Linked DNA regions of Homo sapiens: region 2 is linked to region 1. A link means that fine-mapping ties the variant in region 1 to the expression of a gene that starts in the linked region. Tissue or cell type: transverse colon. Region 1 holds a variant in brackets; the other region holds the start of a gene. All regions are shown on one strand. Distances are between the middles of the regions.

The links. PIP is the estimated chance that this variant, and not a neighbour inherited with it, causes the effect.
Region 2: C19orf85 starts here. The variant in region 1 is fine-mapped to the expression of C19orf85 in transverse colon (GTEx, PIP 0.95).

What each region holds. Positions count from the first base shown.
Region 1 is chr19:55,290,965-55,299,037 of GRCh38, forward strand. It overlaps BRSK1 (BR serine/threonine kinase 1), which reads left to right. Exons shown (of 19, transcript NM_032430.2): 5 at 3,053-3,169; 6 at 3,250-3,283; 7 at 3,365-3,433. Among named protein-coding and RNA genes, the nearest start is that of BRSK1, 11 kb to the left of the region's middle. The variant G/A (reference allele first, on the strand shown) is at 4,228.
Region 2 is chr19:55,460,414-55,468,486 of GRCh38, forward strand. It overlaps C19orf85 (chromosome 19 open reading frame 85), which reads right to left and starts at 4,338. Exons shown (of 2, transcript NM_001386794.1): 1 at 3,969-4,338; 2 at 2,588-3,554. The coding sequence starts at 4,141. The coding sequence ends at 3,059. It overlaps ISOC2 (isochorismatase domain containing 2), which reads right to left and starts at 1,229. Exons shown (of 6, transcript NM_001136201.2): 1 at 1,099-1,229. RefSeq lists enhancers at 2,614-3,336, 4,059-4,781 and silencers at 7,440-7,669, 7,680-7,809.

The DNA.
Region 1 (8,073 bases):
ATTTAAGAAACTTTTGCCCAACTCAAGGTCACTAAGGTCTTCTGTATATTTTCTAGAAGTTGTATAGTTATAGCTCTTGCATTTAGGTCTGGCATCCATTTCAAGTTAATTTTTGTATATGGTGTGAAGTAAGGGTTGAGTAAGGGTTATTTATTTATTCATTTATTTTTAGTTTAGTTTAGTTATTGAGACAGGGTCTTGCTATGTTGCCCAGGCTTGTCTCAAACTCCTGGGCTCAAGGCATGAGCCACTGCGCCTGGCCTATGTGTCCACTTTTAAAGATTTTTTTTTTGGCTGGGCATGGTAGCACATGCCTGTAATCCCAGCACTTTGGGAGGCCAAGGCGGGCAGATCACCTGAGCTCAGGAGTTCGAGACCAGCCTGGGCAACAAAGTGAGATTCCCCCCATCTCTCCAAAAAATAAAAATAATTAGCTGGATGTGGTGGCGTGTGCCCGTGGTCCCAGCTACTTGGGAAGCTGTGGTAGGAGGATTGCTTGAGCCCAGGAGGTTGAGGCTGCAGTGAGGCAACAGAGTGAGACCCTGTCTCAAAAAAAAGAAAAGTTATTATTTTTTTCATTGAATTGACTTTAGCCTCCAAATCAGATATTAAATGTGCAACGTTTTTCTAACTGTTCAGGTACAAAATGAATGCCTTCATCTTTTAGCCTCCTTCATTTGCGCATCTCTCTCACTAAGATGTGTTTTTGGAGATGGGGTGGGGATCACGGTAGAGGGACTCAGACTTTGGGTAAAGCTTGATGATAAAAAGGCCACCTACTTAAATTTTCGGTTTTTGTCTTTTTTTATTTTTTGAGACGGAGTCTCGCTGTCACCCATCCTGGAGTGCAATGGCACGATCTCAGCTCACTGCAACCTCCACCTCCCAGGTTCGAGCGATTCTCCTGTCTCAACCTTCCGAGTACCTGGGACTACAGGCACCCGCCACCATGCCCGGCTAATTTTTTGTATTTTTAGTAGAGATGGGGTTTCACCATGTTGGCCAGGCTGGTCTCGAACTCCTGACCTCAGGTGATCCACCCACCTCGGCCTCCTGAAGTACTGGGATGACAGGCTTGAGCCACCGCACCCGGCCCTGTTTAAATTTTCCACACCTTCCTGTTGACAAGATTGTCAAAACCCTGATATTGAAACCCTGGCCTCTAGGGGGAGATATTCAACGTATTTAACAAGTTTGACCCAGTTAATGACCAGGCCAAATGAAAACTGCAGAATCCTACACTCCCTCTCTCCCCAGACACCAACCCTTAAACCTTGAGGAGTTTGGTTCAAGGGTGGGAAGGTCCCAAGACAGGAACCAAGGATTTTAAGAACCAGCTGCATATCAGCTTTACCTCAAAATAGCTCACTTTGTACATATTCAAATACTTACAGATAAACTAATATGACATCTGGGATGTCCTACAAACTAATTTGGGTTGGGGAGGAGTATGTAAGGGACAGAGATGAGATCAGATTGGCCCTAAGATGATCATGGATGAAGCTGGGCGATGGGTAAGTGAGGCTTCCTCTTACTTTCTCTCCAGTTTTGGGCACGTTTGTGATTGTCTATTATAAAAAGTTTCCAGGCCGGGCGCGGTGGCTCACGCCTGTAATCCCAGCATTTTGGGAGGCCGAGGCAGGTGGATTACCTGACGTGAAGAGTTCGAGACCAGCCTGGCCAACATGGTGAAACCCTGTCTCTACTGAAAATACAAAAATTAGCTGGGCGTGGTGGCACATGCCTATAATCCCAGCTACTCGGGAGGCTGAGGCAGGAGAATTGCTTGAGCCCAGGAGACGGAGGTTGCAGTGAGCCGTAATCGTGCCACTGCACTGCAGCCTGGTCGACAGAGTGAGACTCTGTCTCAAAAAAAAAAAAAAGGAAAGTTTCCAAAGCCAGACATGGTGATGCACGCCTGTGGCTCCAGCTACTCAAGAGGCTAAGGCCAGAGGATCACTTGAGCTGGGGAGGTCAAGGCTGCAGTGAGCTATGACTGTGGTACTGCACTCCAGGCCGGGCAACAGAAAGGGACCCCATCTCTAAGCATACACTTGATCTTAGCCAAAAGGCCGAGAAGCAATGCCCATCTCTAAAAATAAAAAACAAAATAGGCCGGGCGCGGTGGCTCACCCCTGTAATTCCAGCACTTTGGGAGGCCAAGGCAGGCGGATCACCTGAGGTCAGGAGTTCAAGACCAGCCTGGCCAACATGGTGAAACTCTGTCTCTACTAAAAATACAAAAATTAGGCCTGGCGCGGTGGCTCATGCCTGTAATCCCAGGACTTCTTGAACCCGGGAGGTTGTGGTGAGCCGAGATCACGCCATTGCACTCCAGCCTAGGCAACAGAGCGAGACTTCGTCTCAAAAAAAATAAAAATACAAAAATTAGCTGGGTGTGGTGGCACATGCCTGCAATCCCAGCTACTCAGGAGGCTGAAACAGGAGAATCACTTGAACTCAGGATGCGGAGGTTGCAGTGAGCCGAGATCATGCCACTGCACTCCAGCCTGGGTGATAGAATGAGACTCCATCTCAATAAATAAATAAATAAATAAATAAATAAGGCTGGGTGCTGTGGTTCACACCTGTAATCCCAGCACTTTGAGAGGCCAAGGCGGGCGGATCATGAGGTCAGGAGCTCAAGACCAGCCTGGCCAGCATAATGAAACCCCGTCTCTACTAAAAATACAAAAATTAGCTGGGCATGGTGGTGCGGCCTGTAGTCCCAGCTACTCAGGAGGCTGAGGCAGGAGAATCACTTGGACCCAGGAGACAGAGGTTGCAGTGAGCCGAGATCATGCCACTGCACTCCAGCCTGGGAGACAGAGCGAGATTCCATCTCAAAAATAATAATAATAAATACATACATACATATGATAAAAAATTAAAAATTTTTAAAAAGACCAAAATTAATGAATGATAATAAATGGTCTCTCATCCCCTAAAAATCCAAAAAGTATGCAGAAGTGTTCCACTGTGAGAGCCAGTCAGTGGGGCCTGGGCCTCCTGGGAGGAAGGAAGAGGCCTGAGTCCCACCTGGCTGTCTCAGCCACAGAGACCTAAAGCCCGAGAACCTGCTTTTGGATGAGAAAAACAACATCCGCATTGCAGACTTCGGCATGGCGTCCCTGCAGGTGGGGGACAGCCTCCTGGAGACCAGCTGCGGGTGAGTGGGGACTGGGCTCCCGAGACCCTGGGCAGGGGTTTAGAAGCTGGCTGGAGGCTCACATCAGCTCTCTCCCTCAGGTCCCCCCATTATGCGTGTCCAGAGGTGATTAAGGTGAGTGAGGGGCGGATAGAGGGGAGAGGGGTGGAGGCAGCAGTGAGGAGCGATGAAGTCACAACTGGCCTTCCCTTCCAGGGGGAAAAATATGATGGCCGCCGGGCAGACATGTGGAGCTGTGGAGTCATCCTCTTCGCCCTGCTCGTGGTAAGGCGCCCTCACCTCTCCTGTCATTTCTAGATCAATCCCACCTGGTGGGAGCATAGGACAGTACCTTCCATCCTCAGGTCATCTCCTGAATTTATTTATGAATTTTATTTATTTATTTTGAGACAGAGTCTTGCCCCGTCGCCTAGGCTGGAGTGCAGTGGTGTGATCTCAGCTCACTGCAACCTCTGCCTCCCAGCTTCAAGCAATTCTCCTGCCTCAGCCTCCCAAGTAGCTGGGATTGCAGGCGCCCACCACCACTTCCAGATAATTTTTGAATTTTTAGTAGAGACAGGGTTTCGCCATATTGGCCAGGCTGGTCTCCAACTCCTGACCTCAGGTGATCCACCTGCCTCTGCCTCCCAAAGTGCTGGGATTCCAGGTGTGAGCCACTGAACCCGGCCTATTTATTTATGTATTTTGAGACAGAGTCTTGCTCTGTTGCCCAGGCTGGAGTGCAGTGGTGCAGTCTTGGCTCACTGCAACCTACGCCGCCCGGGTTCAAGCTATTCTCCTGCCTCAGCTTCCCGATTAGCTGGGACTACAGGTACCTGCCACCATGCTTGGCTAATTTTTGTATCTTTAGTAGAGACGGGGTTTCACCATGTTGGCCAGGTTGGTTTCGAACTCCTGGCCTCAAGTGATCCACCCTCCTCGGCCTCCCAGAATGCTGGGATTACAAGTATGAGCCATCGTGCCCGGCAGCTGAATTTATTTTATTTTTATTTTTATTTTTATTTTTTGAGAGAGGATCTCTCTCTGTCGCCCAGGCTGGAGTGCAGTGGCGCCATCAC[G/A]GCTCACTGCAGTCTCAATCTCCCAGGCTCAAGCAGTCCTCCCGCCTCAGCCTCCCGAGCAGCTGGGATTATAGGCTCTTGCCAACACGCCCAGCTAATTTTTGTATTTTTCACAGAGACAGGGTTTCGCCTTGTTTCCCTGGTCGGTCTCAAACTCCTGGGCTCAAGTGATCTGCCCACCTCAGTCTCCCAAAGTGTTGGGATTACATGCGTGAGGCCACCGAACCCAGCCCATCTCTCGAATATTTCACTGGTAATGGGAAAGATACTACATTAACCAACAGACCAAGATCCTGGAGTTCCCCCACTCTGTGGGGAGCTAACCTTTTCATTCACAGAACTGTGGGTTAAAAAGATAAAAGAACTATGGGATAGTCTCCAGGAAGAACCCCAGAAAGGAACAAGTCATCCAGGAGCACCTGGAGGGCTTGATACAATGACTGTTTACCAGCTGATTCTAGGGCATTGTGATACTGTAATAACAAGTATAACCAGGCCGGGCACGGAGGCTCACACCTGTAATCCCAGCACTTCAGGAGGCCGAGCGGAGGCAGATCACCTGGGGCCAGAAGTTTGAGACCAGCCTGGCCAACATGGTGAAACCCCATCTCTACTAGAAATACAAAAACTAGCCGGGCTTGGTGGCGCATGCCTGTAGTCCCAGCTACTCAGGAGGCTGAGGCAGGAGAATCGCTTGAACCCAGGAGGTTGAGTTTGCAATGAGTTGAGATCGCGTCACTGCACTCCAGCCTGGGCGACAGAGTGAGACCCTATCTAAAAATATATATATATAGCCAGATCGTAGGCTATCAGCCCTGCTCCTACCACAGGGCCTTTCTGCCTGGGACACTCTGCTACCTATTAGCCTTGTTGCTCACCTAGTTCATATCTAGACTTCTTCAAGCTCTCTGCTCAGTTGTCACATTTCCAGGAAGCTTCCCCTGCCCCCACTCCTCCTCCCCACTCCTGTAAGGTCAGACCCCCCTGTGGTAGGCTCCCTTCTTCCTGGCAACGATCAGAGTTGTCGCTGTGCATTTTGTTGCCTAATTCGTTGAGTGGCATCTCCCTTCCCTTCTGTATCATCAACTCCCTGAGGTCAGGGCCGATGTCTGGGGCATCTGTCTTTGTGTGTTTTATTTCATTTTGCTGGCTTGCCTTTGCAAACCTAAAGTTGACACATGTAAGTCCCCAGTGAACACCTGTAGTGAGAATAAATCAGCAGTTGTCCGGGCGCAATGACTCACGCCAGTAATCCCAGCACTTTGGGAGGCCAAGGTGGGAGGATTGCTTGAGCCCAGGAGTTCAAGACCAGCCTGGGCAACATAGCAAGCAAGACCCCATCTCAAAAGAAAGTTAAGAAAGTAGCCAGGCATTGCCGGGCGCGGTGGCTCACGCCTGTAATCACAGCACTTTGGGAGGCCGAGGTGGGCGGATCACGAGGTCAGGAAATCGAGACCGTCCTGGCTAACGTGGTGAAACCCCGTCTCTACTAAAAATACAAAAAAAATTAGCCGGGAGTGGTGGCGGGCGCCTGTAGTCCCAGCTACTCGGGAGGCTGAGGCAGGAGAATGGTGTGAACCCGGGAGGCGGAGCTTGCAGTGAGCCGAGATCATGCCACTGCACTCCAGCCTGGGCGACAGAGCGAGACTCCGTCTCAAAAAAAATGAAAAAAAAATTAGCCAGGCATGGTGGCACCTGCCTGTAGTCCCAGTTACTCAGGAGGCTGAGGTGGGAAGATTGCTTGAGCCCTGGAGGTCAAGGCTGTAGTGAGCCATGATCATGCCACCGAACTCCAGCCTGGATGACAGAGTGACACCTCGTCTCAAAAATAAATAAATAAATAAGTAATAAGTAGAAAAGAAAAAGAATACATAAGTTTTTTTGTTTGTGTGTGTTTGTTTTTGAGACGGATTCTTGCTCTGTCACACATGATGGAGTGTAGTGGCGCCATCTCGGCTCACTGCAACCTCCACCTCCTGGATTCAAGCGATTCTCCTGCCTCAGCCTCCCAAGTAGCAGGGACTACAGGCATGTGCCACCACGCCTGGCTAATTTTTGTATTTTTAGTAGACATGGGGTTTCACCATTTTGTCCAGGCTGGTCTCGAACTTGACCTCCGCCCGCCTCTTCCTCCTGGAGTGCTGGGATTACAGGTGTGAGCCACCACGCCCAGCCATAAGCAGTTTTTTTAATGTCAGGCACTGTTCTGATCATGTTATTTCACACAATTCCCTCAGCAGTCCCAGGGAGGGGAAGTGACTGGCCCACGGGCACGCAGCTGATAAGCCGCAGGCCTGGGGTCAGTCCTTGGTCTCTTAACCACCAGGCTACATAACGGATACTAAGGGCAATGAGGCCAGCTCCAAGCTGGCTTCCTGGGGCTCACCACTCCATGGGGAGAGCAGCCGAGGTGCTCTGGAGACGAGCTAAGAATGTTCAGAACTCAGCCCTTCTTCACTTGGTGGCTAAAAGCCTGGTTCTGGAGCCCATCCAGCCGAGTTCCAATCCCTGCTCCCTCTCCCTGAGCGAGCCAGTCACCCTACCTCAGTGTCCTCATCTGCACCGTGGAAATACACATCATACCTATCATTGTAAGGGTTTTGTTTTCATTTTTATTTTATCTATTTATTTTTTCATTTTGAGACGGAGTTTCGCTCTTGTCGCCCAGGCTGGAGTGCAATGGTGCGATCTTGGCTCACTGAAACCTCCACCTCCCAGGTTCAAGATTCTCCTGCCTCAGCCTCCCAAGTAGCTGGGACTACAGGCACCTGCTACCATGCCTGGCTAATTTTTTTGTATTTTTAGTAGAGATGGGGTTTCTCCATGTTGGCCAGGCTGGTCTCGAACTCCTGACCTCAGGTGATCCACCCGCCTCAGCTTCCCAGAGTGCTGGGATTACAGGCGTGAGCCACTTCCCCCAGCCCACTGTGAGGGTTTAAATAAATGCTGCACGTGAAGCCCCTGGCACAATGCTTGATGATTATTATTAGTAGTTTATTCTTTTTTTTTTGTTTCTTCTTTTTTTTTTTTTTTTTTTTTTTTTTGAGATGAAGTCTTAGTCTTGCTCTGTAGCCCAGGCTGGAGTGCAATGGCTTGATCTTCTTCGCGGCAACCTCCACCTCCTGGGTTCAAGTTATTTCTGGCTAATTTTTGTATTTTTAGTAGAGATGGGGTTTCACCATGTTGGCCAGGCTGGTCTTGAACTCCTGACCTCAAGTGATCTGCCCACCTCAGCCTTCCAAAGTGCTGGGATTACAGGCATGAGCCACCGCACCTGGCCTAGTAGTTTATTCTTGTTCCAATAGTTCCTCATCATTTGCAGATTCCATATTTGCAAATTTGCCTACCTGTCAAAATGTATCTGTAACCCAAAATAGTCCTGGAGGTGCTTTCACAGTCATTGGCAGACATGCCCAGAGCAGGGGAAACCTGAGCCGCCCACCCAAGGTGCAGGTTTCCGGCTGAGGTCAAACAAAGTGACCCTGTTTCAGCTCTCATCCTGTAAACAATCCCCCTTTCACCACCTATTTCGTGTCACGTTTTTCACATTTTTGTGTTGTTGGTGGCAATTTCGTTGTTTAAAATGGCCATGAAGCCAAGTGCTTCTGAAGTGCCGTCTGGTGTTCCTAAGCGCGGGAGGCTGTGATGTCCCTTCTGGAGAAAGCCCCTCTGATGGGCATGCTTTGTTCAGGAATGACTTGTAGTGCTGCTGGCCATGAGTTCCGCGTCAATGACACAGTACATATGAAAGGTGTCTTTAAGCTGGGTGCGGTGGCTCACGCCTGTAATCCCAGCACTTTAGGAGGCTGAGGCGGGCAGATCACGAAGTCAGGAGTTCGAGACCAG
Region 2 (8,073 bases), 170 kb after region 1:
GGCACCGGGGAAGTCTGTAGGAGCCTTTTCACTGGGTCCTATTCTGTTTCTTCTGAATTCTGGACAATGTGCAACAAGTTGTCTAGTCAATACTATATACAATAAAGGGTTGGCATAAAGCCAAAACCCGGCAAAACTGATCTATGGCGTCAGAAGCCAGGACAGTGACTGCCCTTGGACCACAGTGATGGAAACGACGACGGCGGGAGATCCTGGGATGTGGCGCATGTTTGACTTTTTTCTTTGGATACTTGTTTACACCAGGGTGCTCCCTTTATAAATATTTATTTAAGCTGTGTATTTGCAAACCGTTCGATTTTCTGCGTTTGTGGTATTATTCCAGAAAAAGTGTTCAAAATGCAAAATACAAAGATGGCTTCAGGCCCCCGCCGTGCGGTTGAACTGGAGGCAAAAGGCCAGAGAGCAGGAGGTCGGCGCTGGGGCCCAGTGGGACAGGGGAGAGTCAGGAAGGGGCAGCTGGGACGGTGGGGAAAGTCGGGGAGAAAGGCCCCCAGTTTCTGGTCGAGCGAGGGGCATGATCTGAAGATTCATAGGGGATCCCGGGGAGGGGAACTGGTTTTTGGGAGATGAAAAATTGGGGTGAGGGTGGGTGTGTGAGAGAGAGAGATGTGAAGGGGAGGTCTGGGCTGGAGAGGGTTGGGCGTGTCCTGCGGAACGAGGAGAGATTCAGCCTGGGTGGAGGGTACCCAAGGCCAAAGGGGGCGTGGCTGGAGGTGGGCGGCAACAGGGGGCGGGGTAGGGCCGTTGATTTCCCCACCCGGTCTCGGAAACCCGGCCTTGGAGCCCGGACTTCCTGGCTGTGTGACCTTGGGCAAGTTTCTCTTTGTCTTAGCCTCAGTTTTCTCGTCGGAGAAATGGGGATTAAACCTGCCCACCCCCCAGCGCTGTTACAGAGGCGGCAGGCGCGACCCGGGGACGCTTCCAATCTCTGGCCAGCCAATTCTGGCGGGGCCAGGTGGAGTCCTCCTTCTGGTCCTGTGACCTTGGCCCGGGACGCCCAGGCAGAGCCTCAGTTTCCCCATCTGCTAGGCGGTAAGGTCGGTCTCCAAATAGCGCCAGCAGCGAGAGAGGACTTACCCGGAAGGTGCCGGGTTCGAGCCCGGAACGGCCCCTCTGCAGGTGAGGCGGGGGCACCCTCACCTCTCGGCTCTCGGACGGCCACCGCTGAGGCCTCTTGCGGGCTTCCCAGGGCTGGTTACCGTTTCGTTAGGGCTGGACACGTGGCCCACCCCCTGCACCGTCCGTTTTCCGCCCACTTGGGCCCAGCCGTCCAATCGACACTCATCATGCTCTGCCTCGCCGCTCTCTCCGGCCAATCCGCATGTGCCACTGCCTCTGCCCGCAATCGGCGCTCACCAACTCACCCCGCCCCCTGCCTCTCAACCAATCCGCATATGCAGCTGCTTTGCTCCCGCCCCAGGGGGGGCGGTGCCGGCAAGGCTGTCAGTCTCAAGAAAATGATTAGCTCGCAAAGGCGCCGTGGGGGCGGGGCAGCAGGTCGTTCTGCCAATGGAGAGCCGTAGAGGGCGTGAGTGGCGGCCGACGGGGCGGAGTCGCGCGGTGGTCTCCGAAGGCTCAGACTCTGGCTGGAGAGAGGGCGTCTCGGCCGGCCCCATTGCACAGAGCAGACCGCCGAGGCCGGGAGAGAGAGAGAGGGGTCTTACCTAGAGTAGAGGCATGTCTGCGGTTCGAAACCTGGCCCTCTCTCAAGAAACGGAGGCTTACAAAGATACCCAAGCACTTTCCAGGAAGGGGCTGGCTGAGGGAGCGATCAAGTGAGGAATTTGACGCCCCCCTGTCCTTTGCGCTCTGTGCTGCCTCAGTTTCCCCATCTGTACAGCACCTGCCTCCTCGGGTGGTGTTTAGAATAATTTAGACTCTGTGCTTGGAAATGGAGGTTGAGAGAAAGAGAGAATTTCCTATCTGTCTTGGAATAAATCCAAACTCCTCCCAATTCATGGTCGGCCTTCCTGGTCCGTGCAGACCTCGCCTCTCACCACTCCCCCTGCTCACTCCGCTCCAGCCACAGGGGTCTCCTCTTGCTCTTCCCTCAATGTCCCACCGCAGGGCCTTTGCACGTGTGCTGCCTCAGCCTGGAATCCTAGGACTCCCCATGGCCCAACCTTCCAGGCTTTCAAAGCCTTTCCTGACCACCTGGTGTCAGGTAGCCCTTCCATCAGGTCGCTGTTTTTAATTTTTTTGAAACATCAAAAAAAAGAAAAAAATTGCTCTATCACCCAGGCTGGAGTACCATGGTACGATCACAGCTTGCTGCAGCCTCAACCTCCCGGGCTCAAGCGATCCTCCCACCTCAGCCTCCTGAGTAGCTGGGACCACAGGTATGCGCCACCACACCTGACTAATTTTTTAATTTTTTTGTAAAGATGGAGGTCTCACTCTGTTGCCCAGGCTGGTTTTGAACTCCTGGGCTCAAGTGATCCGCCTGCCTTGGCCTCCCAGAGTGCTGCGATTACAGGTGTGAGCCGCCGCACCCGGCCTTGTGTTTTATTTTCTTTTCAGCACTAACTCCAATCTGAATTGGAAATGAATCTTGCTTTTTGAAAAATGCATGGATATACTCTTTTATTGTCTGTTCCCCGCCAAAACACACACATGCACACAGAACAGGGAGCTCCCTGAGGCAGGGGTCCCGTCTGCCTCGTTCACAGCTGAATCCTCAAGTCCTAGACCTGGGCCTGGCCCATAGTAGGCGCTCGATACATCTTTGGGAATAAATGACAGGAGAGCAGACATTAGGCAGAGGTGAGCCTGGGTGAGAGTGAGGGGTGGATGCCCAGATGGGGCTAGGCAGAAGGAAGGGGGAAGGCAGGAAAGCAAGAAGAGGTGGAGGTGGGGCCCCTGGGCCCAGGAGGAGACCCCTGAGGCAGTGGTCTGAAGTGGGGGTCTGGGTTGGTTTATTTTCCCAGGGGCTGCCAGGAAGGGAGTGGACAGGTTGGGGGCTCCTGGAGAGGGCTGTAGAGCCGTCGTGGAGGGGCCTCTGGCTTGTCCTGGGTTCTGGGCTGGGTTGTGATTGGCCTCATGGGGAGCTGGTCCCCCAACCCTCGGGGATCCCCTGAGAATCCCAGGCACGAGGCACCTCCCAGCAGTCCACCCAACCCCAGTCGGGAGCCACGAGATCAGCCTCTTCCCCCAGGGCATGCTGGGGAAGGGGCAGGGGGCCGCAGAAATGTGGGACCTGCCTCAGGTCCAGCTGGCCCAGGTCGCGATGGGACAGACCCGGCGCTGGCAGGGGAGCATCAGAACCAGAGGAGGGGTCCCATGGCATTGAGGCACACTCTGGGGTGAGCGCAATGTTGTCAAAGAGGTCGAGGGTAGAGGTGTCCAGGGCAGCGAGACTCAGGCTGGCGCTGGCATGGGGAGCCTCAGTGGGGGCCACAGCACAGGCCACTCCCAGGAAGGGGGATGGAGGCGGTGGGGGTGGCTTTTGGAGCGAGGGTCTCTGGGGAGGTGCCTCCTGGGACAGGATGGAGAGGGCCAGGCGCTGGGTGGCAGCCTCAATCTTGGTGAACTGCCTGTAAAGACAGATGTGAGCAGGCTGGTCTCTAACGCCTGAACTCAAGCGATCCTCCTGCCTCGGCCTTTCAAGGTGCTGGGATTGCAGGCTTGAGCCACCACCCCCGGCCAGCATATTTGCAAGGGTCACCTATGTGGTCGCATCACACCGTGCTAGTTATTTATTTTGGTGATTCCTGACCGTCCGCCACCCCCATGAAAACACAACCTCCACGACAGCAAGGAACTTTATCTGCTTTGCTAACTGGCCTGGCACACAGTAGGCACTCAATAAATGCACGTTGACTGTTGCTGGCATCCAGCCCTGGGGGCTGCTCCTCTCTGTCTGTACCTGGTCTCCCCCAGCCAAGGGTGCTGGTTGCTCCTTCCCCTCTTCCCCGTCCCGTGCCCACCTTCCCCACCAGCCCCCTCACCTGCAGATCTGGTTGTGCAGAAACCTTCTGTGGTTGGGCCGCCTCTTGGGGGGCCGGGTGCGCCGGGGCTGCAGGGCCCGCAGCATGTGGGCGGCCGCCCCGCTCACAAAGGCACACAGCTCCCGGGGGCCGGGCTCGGAGACCCCAGGGCCTTCGGGGACCCCGGGGTGCATGGCCAGGGTGGTCTGGAGTAACTCCCCACAATATTGCTGACCAAAGCACCCCCCAAATCTGTGAGCAGGGAGGGGCAGGGGACTCTGGAGGCCCAGGCACCCCGGGCTGGGGAGGAGGCAGGGCTGGGAATTGGGCCAAGGCCTCCCCACTGTGCCCTAACCCTGTCCCCACCTCCCAGGAGCCCGACCTGAAGTCTGAGGGAGCGGCAGGTGGGGGCTAATATAGGAAGGCAGGGAACAGGGAGGGGAGGGGGCTTTCTGGGGCCCTCTAAGTGCCCAATTAGCGCATAGTTGGACCTGGGATATGGACCTGGCGTGCGTCGGCGGGGGGCAGAGAATGGTGCCTGGAGATGGCCAATTAAGGGAACAAAGGCCTCGTTCGGGAGGCGAGGCCGCCAGTAAGTCAAATGCAGCGATTGAGCGTGGAGGACCCTTAATTGGAGCCGTGGGGAGGGGGCTGGGAGGGAGGGGAGCTGGGCTGCATCTGCCCACCCACCCTCAGACACACCTGTGCCTCCCTCCCTCTGCTCAGCCCAGCACCTTAGGAGGGGAAACCGAGGCTCCCAAAGGGGCTGGTGCGGGCCGAGGTCTCCAGCCAGCAGGAGGGGTTGGCTCCTGGAGGGTCACCCCCGAAATCCTGGGGCTCATAGAATCCTGAGCAGCAGAGTGAGGGAGGAGAGGGGGAAGGGTGTGGCAGGACGGGAGGGGACGGGAGAACAGGGCGCAGTCTCCCCCAGGGTGTTTTATTGAGGCACTGGGACCCCTGGTGTCTGTGGGAGGCAGAGGTTGGGCCGGGTCCCCTTGTTTCTGGAAGGGTGTTGGCCGGAGCGGGGACCCTGGGTCTCAGGTTGGGTAGGGGAGCACCGGGTGTGACAGCCTCAGTCTCTGCTTGGACCCCCACCCTCGGGGGTCTGCTCTGGGAAGCCAGGATGTTTCCCGAAATTGATGTAACAAATGACCACGGCTCAGTACCTAGAACCGCACGCGCTGATTCTCCTGCCTGAAGCAGGGATTTAAACCTGACATCATGAGTTTGCTTCCCAGGCCCGCTCACTGGCCAGCAGCACTATGGGCAAGGTCAGCAGTTGAGGTCCTACCAGGCCTAGGGTGGGGGCCAGCAGGCAGGTGGGGGCATATTGGGAGCTGGGGCTGAGTGCAGCCAGTGATGTTGCCAGAGGTCCAGTTTCCTGTCAGCAGGACATGGTGAGACCAGCTGCAGTAGGACAGACAGACACCCAGTGCCCTCACCAGCCATGGCACGTACACGTTGACTGCTACCCCTGCCATGCTCAACACTACCACTGTGCTGAACCACTGCACAGGTGGGGCTGCTGGGCCTGGTGTGGCTGGTGTCTGTGTTGGGGACACCATTGGCCTCCCATGTTTCTCTCGGGTGTCTCCAAGGGTCTCCAGCCTCCTAGACAGCCTCTTGTACTCTGCCCCTTGGTCCCTCTGCCTGCCAGCTGTCTGTGACTCACACTAGCCCCATTGCTATCTCTCCATCTCGCCCACCCTTGCTCGTTCCTCTTCTGCTCCTCCTGGCTTTCTGTCCATCCCTGGGTTATCCACAATTCTCTCAACTATCATCTATCTATCACCTGCCTATCTATGGATCTATCATCTATGTATGTGTGTATGTATGTATATATCTATTTTTAGAGACAGAGTCTGGCTCTGCCACCCAGGATGCACTGCAGTGGTGTGATCCTGGCTCACTGCAGCCTTGACCTCTTGGGCTCAAGGGGTCTTTCCACCTCAGCCTCCTGAGAAGCTAGGATTACAGGCACCTGCCACCATGCTTGGCTAATTTTTTTCTTTTGTAGAGATGGGGTCTCACTATGTTGCCCAGGCTGGTCTCAAACTTCTGGGTTCAAGTGATTCTCCTGCCTTGACCTCCCAAAGTGCTGCGGTCACAGGCGAGAGCCACCGTGCCCAGCCTCTCTCCTCTGTATTGTCTCTCTGACTTCATCTCTCCCATTTGTGTTCCGGTTCCTCTCCCTGTCTCTGTCTCTTTCACTGTCTCTGGAGTTTCTCTCAGTGTTTATGTTTTAGACTCTGAATGCTCTTCACTGCCTGTCTCTCAGCTTTTCTGTTTCTGTCTCTCTGTCTTCCCCAGGGCATGGTGTGTGTGTGTGTGTGTGTGTGTGTTTGTGCACGTGTGTGATTGTTACTGGATGGTACTGTGCAGTTCCAGTCTCCTGGTGTCCAAAACAAAGAATTGGATGAGACGCGCACAGACAGCAAAGGAAAGGAGCAAACGTTTATGAAGCACAGTATTCCACTCTCAGAGGGGAGAGCGGACTGAGCTCTCCGAGATGAGATCAGCCCCAGTTTGTTACATTTCATGGCCTTTTTTTTTTAAAGGACTCTTTTTAAATTTTTTTTTTATTTTTTATTTTTGAGATGGAGTCTTGCTCTGTCGCCCAGGCTGGAGTGCAGTGGTGCGATCTCAGCTCACTGCAACCTCCGCCTCCCGGGTTCAAGTGATTCTCCTGCTTCTACCTCTAGAGTAGCTGGGATCACAGGCGTGTACCACCATGCCCGGCGAACTTTTGTGTGTTTTTAGTAGAGGTGGGGTTTCACCATGTTGGCCAGGCTGGTCTCGAACTCCTGACCTCAAATGATCCGCCCGCCTCGGCCTCCCAAAGTGCCGGGATTACAGGCGTGAGCCACCGCGCCCGGCCGTACATTTCATGGCCTTTTATATGTTTTTCATCACTTCCTTAACCTCACTTTATCTCTTGTAAGTTAGTTGCTCATCCTTGCCTAATCTTTCTTTATCTCTTTTGACCAAATTGCTCATCTTTAGCTTTATTTTTCGTGGCCAAACTGCTACTGCAAGTCCTTCTGGCTTATTTTCCTTATCCTGCATGTTCCAACTCACTGCTTCCTCCCTTATTTCGCATGTCCTGCTTCTGCCATTTGACACGTTTTGCTTCTGCTTAAGCTAACCTATGTCCAACGGTCCCCTTCGCCCCCCGAATTTCTCTGCTATTCTCCTGCCTCAAGATGTCCGTGAGTCTGGTTCACGCCTGTGGTATTGGGGGTGGCCTGAAGGTGAAGGTTTCCTGTCCTGTTCTGCTCCAGGTCTCAGGTACAGAGGGAAGGGTCCAGGGTCCCTTGGCAAGAGGCCGAAGGGAGAAGACCCCTGGGTCTCTGGAGGATGGGAAGGGAAGGATTGGCTCTGAGGGCCGGGAAGGGGCCCGCCGCCACGTGGCTGGGGTATGACCTTTGCTACCTTGATACACACTTTATCGTGTGTATTCACATCTGGTAGCTCTTATTTCAAAATTTGCATTCCACAGTCCAGGGGCCAAGAGCAACATCCGCCGGCCAGCTCTGTCCCACTCAGGCCGGCCAGCAATGCACAGGGCGGCCGCCTGCAGGCTGCGGCCTCGGGACTGTCCACCAGGGGGCGCCCACCCGGCCGGTGCTGGGCGGCCCGGCTCAAGGGGTGCGGCCCGAGAACTTGGGGCCCTCTCCTGTCTCCTGTCATTGAGAACAATCAACCACAGCAGGGAGCTGGCTTCATGGGGTCTTTGTTGAGGACCTGCACTTCCAGGTGCTGGAAGGTCTTCCCCAGCCTCCTCTCCCCTATCCCAGCCCTTGAAATTCTGTGTGTGTTGGGGGTGGATTTAGTCATTCAACAAACATTTATTGAGCACCTTGCTTTACTGAGCAGTGGAGGAGGTGAAGTCAGAGAAGCCGAGGGGGCGCGGGGAGCAGACCTGCCGGGCTTTGTGAGCCAGGCAAGGGTTGGGCTATGAGGGTAAGCATGATGGAGAACCATAGAGGGTTTGGGGCAGGGTCTAACCCAACCTTCTTTGCAGGCCTTGCTACAGCTGGAATGTGGAGACCCCACCCTCCAATCCCCCTACAATCTGGATGGGGGTGTCAGGGCCAGGCCAGGAAGCCAGGGACAACCCAGGGTG